Linked DNA regions of Homo sapiens: regions 2 and 3 are each linked to region 1. The links come from fine-mapping of genetic effects on gene expression. A gene starts in region 1. Each other region holds a variant in brackets. All regions are shown on one strand. Distances are from middle to middle. Region 1 holds the start of MTX1 (metaxin 1). Region 2 has its middle 53 kb from the start of DAP3. Region 3 has its middle 16 kb from the start of KRTCAP2.

Region 1 (5,000 bases):
CAGAGACATGCCTCACCCTCCTTCCAGGCATCCCCAAGTACAACCTCCCATCCCTATAAATATCAGGACTCAAGCCTCACCCTATTGTTTGGTACATGGGCTCCTAAAGCACCTTATAAGCACCCCATACCAGGTGCCCCTGATGTCTGGGCACAGCCTGATGGGACCTTGGTCCCTAGTGGAGGCCAAGGAGAATGAGGAAGCACTTGGGAAGTAGGGATGAGGGAGAGTGCTTAAGGAGGTCACCATTGCAAGAAAGGAGATGCCCACCAGTCACCTTTGTTGATCTTGCCTACAACAGAGGCCTCCAGCCATCGAGTGTTGTCTTGGCGAGAATAGAGGCCAAAGAGGACACCACCCTGCTTGGGGGGCAGGCGGAAGGTGGATAAGAGGTAGATGTCCCCAGCAGTGAGCAAGGCTGTCCGGATCTTCTCTGCCACAGCTACCATCTGCCGAGACTCGCCCACAGTCAGCAGGTCAATTACTGGTCAGGCAGGGGTTATCAAGGTTAGAGAATGGGATCAAATGCTAAGGTATGCCCTCCCCCGAGCCCACATCACCCCCTACCCCCACCACCAGGCAGCGTTAGTCACCTCAAAATTCAACCCTTGGCTGGGCATGGTGGCTCGCACCTGTAATCCCAACACCTTGGGAGGTTGAGGCAGGTGGATCGCCTAAGGTCAGGAGTTCGAGACCAGCCTGGCCAACACGGTGAAACCCCGTGTCTACTAAAAATACAAAAACAACAACAAAAAAGAAAAAAAAACCACCTAGCCGGGCGTGGTGGCGGGCACCTGTAATCCCAGCTACTCAGGAGGCTGAGGCAGGAGACTCGCTTGAACCTGAGAGGTGGAGGTTGCAGTGAGCCGAGATCGCGCCATTGCACTCCAGCCTGGGCAACAAGAGTGAAACTCCATCTCAAAAAGACAAAACGAAAACAAAAAAAAACCTCAACCCTTGTTGCTCTCAGAGGACAGAGGCACTGTGCCTTCCTTTCCCCATTATTGCCTATTACTACCTTCCAGGAACCTGCAGGTTTGAGACTCACTTGGAAACACAGAAACAGCACCCCACAAATTTGAGATGCCCCCACCAGGTGGCGCAAAGGAGATGCTGTGCTGATCCCCCACAGGAGTGGCACCTGGTGTCCACAACGTAGAAATGGAAGGCAGCTTCTCTTTCCACTCCTGGGTTTGGCTCGTTCCACACCCTAGTTCCCCTCCTCCCATCCTAGGGGCGCAGCACACTCGCTCTGGATAAGAACAGCTGCCCACTGAGGACTCTAACCCTCCCACCATCTGGGCTATCTCCCACGGGAATGTAGGACCCAGCTCCTCTGCCTCCTGTGTCCTGGCCAATCTGTGGTTTTCCCTCCAGCCAGTAAAGAATCTATGCCTGTGTCATCTGCTCCAGCTACCTCTCCCACATCCATCGGCCCATCCCACCACCAGACCTCCGGGAGAGCCCAGGCTTCTTGGTCCCCACCCCCGCCCTGTCCTTGGGCAGCCAGGAGCCCAGGGGGACGAAGCCCAGGGACCTACAGTACGCCCACCTTCAGGCTGCTCTCCCAGACCCTAGGGTGCCTACAGATGCTCAGGAACCACCCCAGCCAGGCAGCCTGAGCATCCAGTTCCTGAGTCCTCTGCCCTGGCCTCATGCCTGACCCTGTCCTGTTCCAGCTCCCCCACTACTCTCCGGTGCCCACTCCTCTCCACCAGGCCATAATTTCACCAACTCTAGGCAGTCTTAAGTTTTCCTCTGGCTCAATTTCTGGACTCTTCCCCTCTCCCCTTGCCCACATGTTCTCTGCTACTTGGGCTGAGGGCAAATGGGGAAGAAGCAGAGAGCGGTCTAAGAGGATGGAGACAGGCTTACCCTGCAGATCCTGACTGGCAGATGTGAAAAAGCAAAGGAGGAGAAGAGCCAGGGCCCCCCGAAGTTCCTGCGTCTCCATGCCTCTCAGCCGGCTCACTACCCCTGGCAGGCAGGCAGCTGGGAGGGGAAAAGGCTAGGCGGAGAGAGCAGGAGCCGGGGGGCGGAGGGACAGAATTGGAGGGGGGGCCAGCAGGCGGGTGAGGGGGGGCTGAAACAAAGAGCTGCCAATCACCCTGGAGGCATCATCAGCTCTGGGAACCAGGGGCACTGGGAAAGAATCCTGGAGGCCTCCCTGCTTTCTACCTCTCCCTAATGATCCTCCCCCAGGTGCCTCCCTCTCCGCAGTCATCATTGTTGGGGGTCTCGGCACACAGCGCTACCGAATGCCACTGTTTTCTGGAAGCCACGATTGTGGAAGGCAAGAACCCCTGGCAGGGGCAGTGCTAGACAGTGGGCATTATTCCACAGCTGGCAGGAAAGGATGCCAAGGGAGTGGCCGCAACTAGCTTGCTATAGTGCCCAGGGATGCCCACATGGCATGAATTTTGCTGTTCTGGCGGAGCAAGTGCTCTTTATTAGGGTGGGGGGTCCCCTGACAAGTGCCTGTTTCTCCATTTTCCCTCATTCGTAGGAAAGCTTGGGAGTCTGGAAGCGTCTGACGGGAACTGAAGGGAGAATCTAAAGCAGTGGTCAGTGAGGTCAGAGTGAAGAAACCAAAAAAGAGGAAAGGGACACCAGGGACAGGCGCAGAAGACCAGGGGTACAGGCGAGGAGCCAAGGACCAGACTGTGGAACACTGTGGGTACTAGCGGACGGGCCGTGACCCGGATGAAGCAGAGGGGCGCCTGAGTTCCCGTCACCTAAGCGACAGCCTGCGAGCCTCTCTTCCCCTCCCCCACCCAAGCCCCAGCCCGGCCTCCGCTCCGGCCGCCGCCACCGCCCCTGTTTTGTTTCCATGGCGACAGGCGGCGCAGGGCCCGCTCCAAACATAACGCGCTGTGGAAAACATGCTGCTCGGGGGACCCCCCCGCAGTCCCCGCTCGGGGACGAGCCCCAAGGGGCCCTGGAGCAGTACAGGCCACGTGCAGTTTGGCAAGAGCCCCCAGACCTGGCCCAGGCGCACAAGACCCCGCTCTCCAGAGCCTGCCGCGCCTTCAGGGGTTCGGGGCTCCACTTGGACGAGGCGCCGTGACTCTCCGAGGCGCGCCGGGCCGACAGCGCTGTCCCGCTACGTGGGCCACCTCTGGATGGGCCGGCGGCCGCCCTCCCCCGAGGCCCGCGGCCCAGTCCCCCGCAGTTCAGCTGCCAGTCGGGCCAGAAGAAGCCTCGCCTCCCCGGGGATCTCCCCAGGCCCCCTGACCGCAACGATCGGAGGGGCGGTGGCGGGGGGCGGGCCCAGGCAGGGGAGGGCAGAAGCACACAAGGAAGTGTTTCCGGGACAGAGGGTGGGCAAGATGGCGGCGCCCATGGAGCTGTTCTGCTGGTCAGGGGGCTGGGGGCTGCCGTCAGTGGACCTGGACAGCCTGGCCGTGCTGGTGAGGGGTGGCGCCGGCGCCCTCTGCTGTGCCCTGATGACTGGGGAGGGGGCCGAACTAGCCAAGCATCCAAACCTTGCCAGGGCTACTCAGCACGGGCGCAGTGGGGGAAACTGAGGCAGTCAAAGAGCGTACGTGGCCGATATGGCCTCAGTGCCCTATGCTGTAGTTTTCTAGGCTTAATGCAGCAATGAAAAGACGCCTGGTTGGGAGTTCAGGTGATGGGTTCTAGTCCTTGCTCATCCATTCACTGGCTGTGTGACCTTGCGGAGATCCTTTCTCTTTGGGCATTTTTTTTCTCCATTCGGAGGTTTACTAGGCTGGACTGTCTCAGGGACCTACTCTAGCTTGGAATTCCTGCCTTCTCCTCAGCCCCCTTCTCCTCTTCCTCCTCACTTAACAGCATTTACTGAGGCTATTGTTTGTTAGACCAAACGACTCACAGCCAGGCTTTGTATAAAGAGCTTAGCAATCAGACTTCCTTTGCTTCATTTATTCATTGACTCCTTGCTTTAAAGAGGATCTATTAGATTTCTTCCAAATATTAAACATTGCCAGGCAAAGATGAATAAAATTTGGTTCCTCCCTTCGAGTTTACAGAAAGGCAGATAGGTAAGCAAATAAATATAATAAAATATTCACATATAAGTTAAAGTAGGAACAGACCACAGATACTGCCAAAGAGAAGGGCATTATCAGTGCTTCCAAGAAGAGGGATACTGGTTAGGAAAAGCTTCTGAGGATAGATGTTCACCAGGTAGATGGCAAGAGAGGAGATAGAGGAAAGGATTTTCCTGGCTGTCCTGTAATCACAGACATGTCCGGAATCTCTCTGAGCCCTGTGTTGTCCATTTGTAAAATAGAAATGGTAGTGACTCCCCCTTTTTTTTCGAGACTAAGATACTAAGTATAGGGAATGGCACATAAGGTATTCAATAAATGTTATTTCTCTTCTTGATACCACTGTGGGGGACATGGCTCTGCCTCTCTGACTTCTGCTTCCTTCCCTGCAGACCTATGCCAGATTTACTGGTGCTCCACTGAAGGTACACAAGATCAGCAACCCCTGGCAGAGCCCTTCAGGTACCCAGTATCCCTTGGGGGTAAGGAAGGGTGTGTACAAGGGGAGAAGCAAGAAATAGGCAGGAATGTGTTGCAACTATGTATGACTAGGCAGCTAAGGGTCTGGTTGGTATACTTCCCTCTCAATATCAGGAACTCTGCCTGCCCTTCGGACCAGTCATGGAGAGGTCATCTCAGTTCCACACAAGATCATCACCCACCTTCGAAAAGAGGTAGGTGACTTGGATAGAGGGGGCTGCCAGTGAGAGAAGTTCAGTCAATTCTATACAATACACATTTATTGAGCACCAGATATATGCCATGCTAGATGCAGGTGACCCAGAGCATCAAGGAGCAACAGTCTTGTGGCAGAGACACACACAATGTCACTGTGATGTATTAAAGCAGTCGGCAAGAGATGAAACTTAGGGCACTGTGAGGCAGGGAGGGAGAGGAGCACAGGCTGAAGGAGAGTGGAAGACAGCAGTTGGCCTCTGATGGTGGGACTGGAGAGAGATTTCTAAGGGC
Region 2 (5,000 bases), 530 kb after region 1:
GACAGTAATATATAACTATCAAAGTAGTATACTAATAGGTTGTATATTATATATTGTATATGACAATATATAGTATATTACTCATAATATTGGGTCCTATATATTATGTATATGTATTATATATGTTATATGTATTTGTATATATTTTATATATATGTTATATATATATTTTTAATTTATATTTATATATTTTTAAGAGACAGTCTTGCCCTGTCTCCCAGGCTGGAGTGCAGTGGCATGATCACAGCTCACTGCAGCCCCAACTCCTGGGTTCAATCAGTCCTTTTGCCTGAGCCTCCCTAGTAACTTGGGACCACAGGTGTGTGCTACCACACCTGGCTAATTTTTTAGTGTTCAGTAGAGACAGAATGTAGCTTGGTTTCCCAGGCTAGGCAATATGGCAAAACCTCAGAGTGAGAGAGACCGAATCTCTAATAAATAACTTGAACAAAATAACTGCTAAATGTACACTAGAAACCATATTCCTTTTTCTTTTTTTTTTTGAGACGGAGTCTTGGTCTGTCACCCAGGCTGGAGTGCAGTGGTGCGATCTCGGCTCACTGCAAGCTCCGCCTCCTGGGTTCACACCATTCTCCTGCCGCAGCCTCCCGAGTAGTTGGGACTACAGGCACCCGCCACCGTGCCCGGCTAATTTTTTGAAATTTTAGTAGAGACAGGGTTTCACCGTGTTAGCCAGGATGGTCTCGATCTCCTGACCTTGTGATCCACCCACCTCGGCCTCCCAAAGTGCTGGGATTACAGGTGTGAGCCACCGCGCCCAGCCTAGAAACCATATTCCTGATGATAATTTAAAAGATCTTACTAAATGGAAAGATTCTCCATGTTCATTGATTGGAGTACTCAGTAATAAGATGGCAGTTATTCCCATATTGACCTATAGATTCAATGCAATCATTATCAAAATTTCAGAAGGTTTTTTGCAAAACTGGAAAACTGACCAAGCACGGTGGTCCATGCCTGTAATCTCAGCATGCTGGGAGGCTGAGGTGGGCAGATCACTTGAGCCTAGGAGTTTGAGACCAGCCTGGGCAACATGGAGAAGCCTAGGCTCTACAACAAATACAAAAATTAGCCAGGTATGGTGGCATGCGCCTGTAGTTCCAGCTACTTGGGAGGCTGAGGCAGGAGGATCACTTGAACCCCAGAGGTTGAGGTTTCAGTGAGCCGTGATCATGCCACTGCTCATCCTCAGCTGCAGAGTAAGACCCTGTCTCAAAAAACAAAAAGGAAATAAAAAAGGGAAACTGACCTAAAGTTTATGTTTTTATTAATATTATTTTGAGACAGGGTCTCACTCTCTGTTACCCAGGCTGGAGTGTAAGGCCACACTACAGCCTCGACCTTCTGGACTCAATCCTCCTACCTCAGCTCCACGAGTGGTTAGGACTACAGGCACACACCACCACACGTGGCTAATTTTGATTTTTTTTTTTAATAAAGATGGGATCTCACTATATTGCCCAGGCTGGTCTCAAGCTTCTGGACTCAAGTGATCCACCTGTCTCAGCCTCCCAAATTGCTGGGCGTATAGGCTTGAATGACTTTGGCCAGGCTATAACCCCATCGTCTGTTTCTGGGAAGACCTAATGCACCCAAACGCAATGCTACCCTTCAAGAGACAAATCTAAAATTGCAAGTAAAAATTCAAAAGAGGGCCGGGTGTGGTGGTGCACGCCTATAATCCCAGCACTTTGGGAGGCCGAGGCGGGTGGATCACCTGAAGTCAGGAGTTTGAGACCAGCCTGAGTAATACAGTGAAACCCCGTCTCTACTAAATACAAAAACATCAACCGGGCATAGTGGCGGGCACCTGTAATCCCAGCTACTTGGGAGGCTGAGGCAGGAGAATTGCTTGAACCTGGGAGGCGGAGGCTGCAGTGAGCCGAGATCGCGCCACTGCAGTCCAGCCCGGTGACAGTGTGAGACTCTGTCTCAAAAAAAAAAAGTAAGGATATAAAAGATTGAGTAGCATGATTAACACTTGTCCTAATGGAAGTATTTTTAAAAATTGAATCCCCAAACAACTTTTTTTTGGTAGAAGCTCTTTTACATTCACATACTTTATTTTTAATAGCCTAACTACAGTTATCCTTTTCTTTAACCCAGGAAGGCAGAGAGAAAAGAGAGCAAATTAAGTTGCCTAAAGCTGAACTTGGACATCATCAAACTTCTAGAAAGGCAGATTATGAAATAATGCTTTAATAAACATATTATTAATTTAATAAGCATCTGTTGTTCTAAAAAGTAGAAAATACATCAGGTCATTATTGTTGACCCTTAAACAATAACGTTTTTGGACTGCATGGGTCCACTTATTCACATATATATTTTTTTTAAAGGGTCTTGCTCTGTTGCCCAGGCGGGAGTACAGTGGCATGATCTCGGCTCACTGTAACCTCTGCAACCTTGGTTCAAGCTATCCTCCTGACTCAGCCTCCCTAGTAGCTGGGCTTACAGGTGCACACCACCACGTCCGGCTGTTTTGTATTTATAGCAGAGACGGGGTGTCACCATACTGGCCAGGCTGTTCTCAAACTCCTGACCTCAGGTGATCCGCTCACTTCGGCCTTCCAAAGTGCTGGGATTACAGGTGTGAGCCACCGAGCCCGGCCTCACAGATCTTTTTCAATAGAAGTTATACGGAGTGGACCTGCCTTTCTGGCCTCACCTTCCACCTATCAAATCCCAAAACTTCTGAATGTACTTTCTTTT[G/C]AAGCACATAAAGAACCTGTTCAAAATTGACTGACAATGGACCATAAACCAGCTCAATATATTTCAAAGAATTTAAATCATACAGCCGTGTACTCTGATTCTAATGCAATTTAAACTAGAAACCAGTAACAAAAAGAGAAATAGAAACTCCTCATGTGTCTGGAAATTAAAACATACTTTTCTGATGTGCCCATTGGTCAGGGAGAAAGATCAGAATGGAAATGAGAAAGTAATTCAAATTAAATGATTGTGAAATTACTAAACACAAAACTTAAAAATTTTGTACGTTGAAAATACTGGCTGGCAGGGCACAGTGACTCAGGCCTGTAATTCCAGCACTTTGGGATGCCGAGGCGGGAGGATTGCTTGAGCCCAGGACTTCAAGACCAGCCTGGGCACCATGGTGAAACCTCATCTCTACCAAAAATGCAAAAATTGACCAGGCGCAGTGGCTCACGTCTGTAATCTCAGCACTTTGGGAGGCCAAAGCGGGCAGATCACCTGAGGTCAGGAGTTCAAGACCAGCCTGACCAACATGGCAAACTCCTGTCTCTGCTAAAAAAATACAAAAATTAGTTGGGCGTGGTGGCAGGCGCCTGTAATCCCAGCTACTCGGGAGGCTGAGGCAGGGAAATTGCTTGAACCCAGGAGGCAGAGGTTACAGTGAGCTGAGATCACGCCACTGCACTCCAGCCTGGGTGACAGAATGAGACTCAGTCTCAAAAAAAAAAAAAAAAAAAAAAAAATTAGCTGGATTCGTGATGGCACATGCCTGTAGTCCCAGCTACTTGCGGGAGCTGAGGTGGGAGGATGGCTTGAGCCCAAGAGGTTGAAGTTGCAGTGAGCTGTTTGTACCACTGCACTCCAGCTTGAGTAACAAAGTGAGATCCTATCTCAAAAAAAAATAAAAAATTAAATTAAAAATTAAATATTTTAAAATATTAAAATTGGCCAGGTGCGGTGGCTCACACCTGTAATCCCAGCACTTTGGGAGGCTGAGGCTGGCAGATCACGAGGTCAGGAATTTGAGACCAGCCTGGCCAACATAGTGAAACCCTTACTAAGAATACAAAAATTAGCCGGGTGTGGTGGCGCATACCTGTAATCCCAGCTACTCAGGAGTCTGAGGCAGGAGAATCGCTTGAACCCGGGAAGTGGAGGTTGCAGTGAGCTGAGATCGTGCCGTTGCACTCCAGCCTGGGCGACAGGACGAGACTCCGGCTAATTTTTGTATTCTTAGTAGAGAGGGGGTTTTGTCATGTTGGCCAGGCTGGTCTCGAACTCCTGACCTCAGGTGATCCACCCACGTCAGCCTCCCAAAGTGCTGGGATTACAGGCATGAGCTACTACGCCAAACCCAGATCCAGTATTTTAAAAGGATAATCAACATAAATGAGTTTGGGATAATTTTAGGAATGCAAGATAGTATTACATGAAAATCAGATGTATTCATTAGTGCAACAAAGGAATGATAAAATAATGTAATTATCTTAGTGCGGAGAAAGCTGTAAAAAACATTCAAATCTATTCATGACCAAAATTCTTAGCAAAACAGGAATACAGAATTTCCTTAAGCTGTCAGAGTACCTACAGAAACTTTTCAGCCCACATCATACTTAGAAGTGAAATGGTAGCTGCGCACAGTGCCTCACACCTGTAATCCCAACACTTTTGGAGGCCGAGGTGGGCAGATCACTTGAGCTCAGGAGCTCAGGAGTTTGAGACCAGCCTGGGCAAGACGGTGAAACCCCATATGTACAAAAAATAAAAAAAATTAGCCAGGTGGTGGTGGTCCATGCCTGTAATTGCAGCTATGCAGGAGGCTGAGGTGGGAGGATCGCTTCAGCCCAAGAGGTTGAGGCTGCGGTCAGCCGAGATTGCACCACTGCACACCAGCCTGGGCAAGAGAGTGAGACCCTGTCTCAAAATAAATAAATAAGACTAAATAAATATGGAATTACAAGGAGCTCAGAATAGACAAGAGAGGCTAAGATTTTATTTTTTATTTTCAGACGGAGTCTTGATCTGTCGCCCAGTTTGGAGTGCAGTGGTGCTATCTCAGCTCACTGCAATCTCCACCTCCGGGGTTCAAGTGATTCTCCTACCTCAGCCTCCGGAGTAGCTGGGATTACAAGCGCCCAACACCATGCCCAGCTAATTTTTGTATTTTTAGTAGAGACGGGTTTCACTATGTTGGCCAAGTTGGTCTACAACTCTTGACCTCAGTGGTCCGCCGACCTCGGTCTCCCAGACTGCTGGGATTACAG
Region 3 (6,634 bases), 51 kb before region 1:
GTACTGAAAGTTTTAGCTAGAGCAATCAGACAAGAGAAAAAAATAAAGAGGACTGGGCGTGGTGGCTCATGCCTGTAATCCCAGCACTTTGGGAGGCCGAGGCTGGCGGATCACCTGAGGTCAGGAGTTCGAGACCAGCCTGACCAAACATGGAGAAACCCCGTCTCTACTAAAAATAAAAAACTAGCTGGGCGTGGTGGCACATGCCTGTAATCCCAGCCACTTGGGAAGCTGAGGCAGGAGAATCGCTTGAACCCAGGAGGCAGAGGTTGCAGTGAGCTGAGATCACGCCGTTGCACTCCAGCCTGGGTAACAAGAGCGAAACTCTGTCTCAAAAAAAAAAAAAAGAAAAAAGAAATAAAGAGCATCCAAACTGGAAAGGAAGAAGTCAAATTATCCTTGTTTGCAGGTGATATGATCTTATATTTGGAAAAACCTAGACTTCACGAAAAAAACATTAGAACTGATAAACAAATTCAGTAAAGTTGCAGGATACAAAGTCAACATACAAAAATCAGTAGCATTTCTCTATGTCAATCGTTAACAATCTGAAAGAGAAATCAAGAAAGTAATCCCATTTACAATAGCCATGAATAAAGTTAAATACCTCAGAATTAACTTAGCCAAAGAAGTGAAAGATCTCTACAATGAAAACTACAAAACACTGATGAGGCCGGGAGCTGTAACTCATGCCTGTAATGCCAGCACTCTGGGAGGCCAAAGTGGGAGGATTGCTTGAGCTTAGGAGTTTGAGACTAGCCTGGGCAACATAGTGAGATCCCATCTCTACAAAAATAAATAAGAAAGAAAGGCTGGGCACGGTGGCTCATGCCTATAATCCCAGCACTTTGGGAGGCCGAGGCAGGTGGATCACCTGAGGCCAGGAGTTCAAGACCAGCCGGGCAAATATGCTGAGATCCTGTCTCTAATAAAAATGCAAAAATGAGCCGGGGGTGGTGGTGTGCACCTGTAGTCCCAGCTACTCAGGAGGCTGAGGCAGGAGAATCACTTGAACCTAGGAGGCAGAGGTTGCAGTGAGAGGAGATCACGCCACTGTACTCCAGCCTGGGCAACAGTGTGAGACTCCATCTCAAAAATAAATAAATAAATAAATAAATAAGAAAGAAAAAGAATAAAACACTGATGAAAGAAATCGAAGAAGACACAAAAATATAGAAAGATATTCCATGTTCCTGGATTGGAAGTATCAATATTGTTAAAATGTCTATACTACCCAAAGCAATCTACAGATTCAAAGAAATCCCTATCAAACTACCAATGACATTCTTCACGAAAATAGACAAAACAATCCTAAAAGTTGTATGGAATCACAAAAGATCCAGGATAGCCAAAGCTATCTTGAGCAAAAAGAACAAAACTGGAGGAATCACATTACCTGACTTCAAATTACACTACAGAGCTATAGTATGCAAAACAGCATGGAACTGGCATAAAAACGAACACATAGACCAATGGCAGAATAGAGAACCCAGAAACAAATTTATACACCTATGGTAAACTCATTTTTGACAAAGGTGCCAAGAACATACACTGGGGAAAAAAACATTCTCTTTAATAAATGGTGCTGGGATAACTAGATATTCATATGCAGAAGAATGAAACAAGGGAGGCAGATTGCACAGGAAAAAAAAATGGATGAAACTTGACCCCTGTCTCTCGCCATATACAAAAATCTAATCAAAATGGATTAAAGTCTTAAATCTAAGACCTCAAACTATGAAACTGCTACAAGAAAACATTGAGGAAACTCCAGGACATTGGTCTGGGCAAAAATTTCTTGAGTAATATACCATAAGAACAGGCAACTAAAGCAAAAATGGACAAATGAGATCACATCAAGTTAAAAAGCATAACAAAGGAAATAACAACAAAGTGAAGAGACAACCCACAGAATGGAAGAAAATATTTGCAATCTGATAAGGGATTAATAACCAGAATATATAAGGAGCTTAAACAACTCTTTAGGAAAAAAATCTAATAATCTGATTTTAAAATGGGCATAAGATTTGAGTAGACATTTCTCAAAAGAAAACATACAAATGGCAAACAGACATATGGAAAGGTGCTCAACGTCATTGATCATCAGAGAACTGCACATCAAAACTACAATGGGATATCATCTTGCCCCAGTTAAAATGGCTTATATCCAAAAGACAAGTAATAATAAATGCTGGCAAGGATGTGGAGAAAAGGGAACCCTCCTACACTGTTGGTGGGAATGTAAATTAGTGCAAGCAGAGTTTACAGATGCCTCAAAAAAACTAAATATAGAGCTACCATGTGATTCAGCAATCCCACTGCTGGGTGTATACCAAAAGAGAAAGGAAATCAGTATATCAAAGAGATATCTGCACTCCCATGTTTGTTGCAGCACTGTTCACAATAGTCAAGATTTGGAAGCACGTTAAGTGTCCATCAGCAGATGAATGGATAAGGAAAATGTGGCACATATACACAATGGAGTACTATTCAGCCATAAAAAAGGAATTAAATTCTGTCATTTGCAACAATATGGATGGAACTGGAGGTCATTATGTTAAGTGAAATAAGCCAGGAACAGAAAGACAAACATCACATGTTCTCACTTATTTATGGGTCCTAAAAATCAAAACAGACCAGGGGTGGTGTCTCATGCCCGTAATCCCAGCACTTTGGGAGGCTGAGGTGGGTGGATCACCTGAGGTCAGGAGTTCAAGACCAGCCTGGCCAACGTGGTGAAACCCCATCTCTACTAAAAATGTAAACATTAGCTGGGCATGGTGGCTGGCACCTGTAATCCCAGCTACTCAGGAGGCTGAGGCAGGAGAATCACTTGAACCCAGGAGCCGGAGGTTGCAGTGACCCAAGATCACGCCATTCCAGCCTGGGCGACAAGAGCAAAACTCTGTCTCAAAAAATACATAAAAAATTAAAAACAGGCCGGGCACGATGGCTCACGCCTGTAATCCCAGCACTTTGGGAGGCCGAGGT[G/A]GGAAGATCACGAGGTCAAGAGATCGAGACCATCCTGGCTAACATGGTGAAACCCCATCTCTACTAAAAATACAAAAAATTAGCCGGGCATGGTGGCACGCACCTGTAGTCCCAGCTACTTGGGAGGCTGAAGCAGGAGAATCGCTTGAACCTGGGAGGCGGAGGTTGCAGTGAGCCAAGATTGCACCACTGCACTCCAGCCAGGGCAACACAGCGAGACTCCATCTCAAAAAATAATAATAAAAATAAAATAAAATAAAATAAAAATAAGTAAAAAAACAAAAATAAAAATAAAAACAATTGAACTCATGGAGATGGAGAATAGAAGGATGGTTATCAGAGGCTGGGAAGGATAGTAGGGGGATGTAGGGATGGTTAATGGGTACAAAAAATAGCTAGAATGAGTAAGACCTTGTAGTTAATAGCACAACAGGGGGATTATAGTTAATAATAATTTAATTGTACTTTTTAAAATAACTAAAAGAAGATAATTGGATTGTTTGTAACACAAAGGACAAATGTTTGAGGGAATGGATACCTAATTTTCCATGATGTGATTATTACGCCTTGCATGCCTACACCAAAATATCTCACGTACCTCATAAATATATACACCCACTATGTACCCACAAAAATTAAAAATAAAACAATTTTTTTTTTTGACAGTCTCGCTCTGTCGCCCAGGCTGGAGTGCAGTGGCACCATCTCGGCTCACTACAAATTCCGCCTCCTAGGCTCAAGCAATTCTCCTACCTCAGCCTCCCAAGTAGCTGGGATTACAGGTGCCCACCACCATGTCTGGCTAATTTTTGTATTTTTAGTAGAGATGGGGTTTCACCATATTGGCCAGGCTGGTTTTGAACTCCTGACCTCAAATGATCTGCCTGTCTCGGCCTCCCAAAGTGCTGGGATTACAGGCATGAGCCACCGCACCTGGCCACAATTTTAAACAAGTATAAATAAATAAATAAATAAATAAAACTGTATCAGTGGACTTTTCATACTCTGTTACATTATGATTCATTGGTTTCTCTTGCACTTTGCATAGATCCTTTACTCTTGCATAATTTTGTAATATTTGAAGATATTAATATTGACTCACTGAGTGATGCTAATCTTCCAACTGTTGACACTTTATTATACAAATGCTTCTCGACTGACTTCTGATGGGGCTACACCCCCATAAGTCCATCGTAAGTTGGAAATATTGTAAGTCGAAGTGAGTTTAGTGCACCTAAACCACCAAACATATAGCTTGGACTAGCCAACCTCAAACATGCTCAAAACACTTACATTACCCTGGCCAGGCATGGTGGCTCATGCCTGTAATCCCAGCACTTTGGGAGGCCAAGGCGGGCAGATCACGAGGTCAGGAGATCGAGACCATCCTGGTTAACATGGTGAAACCCTGTCTCTACTAAAAATACAAAAAATTAGCTGGGCGTGGTGGTGGGCGCCTGTAGTCCCAGCAACTTGGGAGGCTGAGGCAGGAGAACGGCGTGAACCTGGGAGGCGGAGCTCACAGTGAGCCGAGATCGTGCCACTGCACTCCAGCCTGGGCGACAGAGTGAGACTCCATCTCAAAAAAACAAAACAAAACAAAACCCACTTACATTAGCCTACAGTTGGGCAAAATCATCTAACACAAAGCCTATTTTATAATAAATTGTTGAATATCTCATAAAATTTATTGAATACTATGCTGAAAGTGAGAACAGAATGGCCGTATGGGTACACAAGTTGGGGTTTCTATCAAATGAGTATCGCTTTCACACCATTGTAAAATCAAAAAATCATTTATTGAACCATCATAAGTTGGGGACCATCTATCCAATAAGAACAAATAAAACCGCCAGGTGCGGTGGCTCACACCTGTAATCCCAGCACTTTGGGAGGCCGAGGCAGGTGGATCACGAGGTCAGGAGATTGATACCATCCTGGCTAACATGGTGAAACCCCGTCTCTACTAAAAATACAAAAAATTAGCGGGGCGTGGTGGCAGGCACCTGTAGTCCCATCTACTTGGGAGGCTGAGGCAGGAGAACGGTGTGAACCAAGTTGGTCCCTGAGTAGTGGCCCCACCCCTTAGAGGGGTGGGCAGCCCCCCTTGTATGCCTGTCAGGCAGTAGGGATTTCTGGATGTCCACAGGTGTCAAGGTAATTACTAGGTCCTTGGGGAAGGTTTCAGGTAGTCAGGTTGTGTTGACTTCATCCCTGCCCTCAGGGCACCCACAGTTCCATAGGGCAACAGGACAAAAGCACATGCAATTAACAAAAACACAGACAAACTTTTAAAAGGGGAGTAGTGGAGAAGGGGCTGGGTGAGTCAGGGTTTCCTAGAGAAGGTAAGCTACAAGAGACGAAGATGGGAAAATATGATAGCCTGAAGGTGGACAGACTCAGGAACAGGTCTGAGCAGCTGAGAAAAACATCTGGATCATTCTGAGGATTCAGCAATTTGGAGTTGATGCAGGGTAGAAGTTGAGTTTCAACAAAGGGCTCAAAGTACAAGAGTGGTGTGTTGCCAATGGGGTTCTTGGTTCTTCTTCTTTTTTTTTTTTTTTTGAGACAGAGTTTTGCTCTTGTTGCCCAGGCTGTAGTACAATGGCGCGATCTCGGCTCACCACAAACTCCACCTCCCAGGTTCAAGTGATTCTCCTGCCTCAGCCCCCCGAGTAGCTGGGATTATAGGCAAGTGCCAACACACCCAGCTAATTTTGTATTTTTAGTAGAGATGGGGTTTCTCCGTGTTGGTCAGTCTGGTCTTGATCTCCCAACCTCAGCTGATCTGCCCGCCTCAGCCTCCCAAAGTGCTGGGATTACAGACGTGAGCCACGGCACCTGGCCCTTGGTTCTTCTTTTAATAAACATTTGTTGAACACCTACTCTATGCCAAACAGCATTCTAGTGGACAAAATAGACAAATTCTCTGCCTTCAATGAACCTTATACTCTAGTGATGGGAGACAGACAAGACAAAAATAAACATTTAATATACCAACTAAACCTGCCCAGTGGCTCATACCTGTAATCCCAGCACTTTGGGAGCCCAAGGCAGGAGGATCACTTGAGGCCGGAGTTCAAGGTCAGCCTGGGCAACATAGACCTCATCTCTACTAAAAATAAAAATAACATATATTCACCAAGTAGTGAAAAGTACTATGAAGAAAAGTATAGCAAGGTAAGGGGCTAGAAGGTGACAGGCTGTACTGTGTCATATAGCACGATCAGAAAGGCCTGTCTGAGAAGGAGACATTTGCACAGAGACCTGAATGACATACAGAAGAGAGAAGTGTAGATATCTGCTGAGAAAGCGTTTCAGGCACAGGAACAGCAAGTGCAAAGGCCGCGAGGTGGAAACGTGCCTGGCACAGGGGACATGCAGGGTCTGGGGGCAGGATGGAGTGAGTGTGGGGAAGAGAGCAAGGAGGCGACATCAGAGAGGTGGCAGGAGCCAGATGGTGTGTTGTAACCATGCACTGTAGTCATGCTGGTTAAGCAACATGGTGGGCACAGATGGATCTGAATGTGAACTCCAATTCCGCCTTCATTTATCGGTTGTGTATAATCTTGAGCAGATTAGCCTTTCTTTCATTTAACCCCATTTCATTTTACTGAAACAGGGTGTATTAGTCAAGGGTTCT

The links.
Region 2: its variant is fine-mapped to the expression of MTX1 in whole blood (TOPMed, PIP 0.93).
Region 3: its variant is fine-mapped to the expression of MTX1 in whole blood (INTERVAL, PIP above 0.99).

What each region holds. Positions count from the first base shown.
Region 1 is chr1:155,205,923-155,210,922 of GRCh38, forward strand. It overlaps MTX1 (metaxin 1), which reads left to right and starts at 2,773. Exons shown (of 8, transcript NM_002455.5): 1 at 2,773-3,410; 2 at 4,424-4,493; 3 at 4,626-4,705. The coding sequence starts at 2,883. It overlaps THBS3 (thrombospondin 3), which reads right to left and starts at 1,975. Exons shown (of 23, transcript NM_007112.5): 1 at 1,876-1,975; 2 at 278-484. The coding sequence starts at 1,954. RefSeq lists an enhancer at 976-1,759 and a silencer at 3,123-3,322.
Region 2 is chr1:155,739,677-155,744,676 of GRCh38, forward strand. No RefSeq gene overlaps it. Among named protein-coding and RNA genes, the nearest start is that of DAP3, 53 kb to the left of the region's middle. The variant G/C (reference allele first, on the strand shown) is at 2,734.
Region 3 is chr1:155,153,935-155,160,568 of GRCh38, forward strand. No RefSeq gene overlaps it. Among named protein-coding and RNA genes, the nearest start is that of KRTCAP2, 16 kb to the right of the region's middle. The variant G/A (reference allele first, on the strand shown) is at 2,992.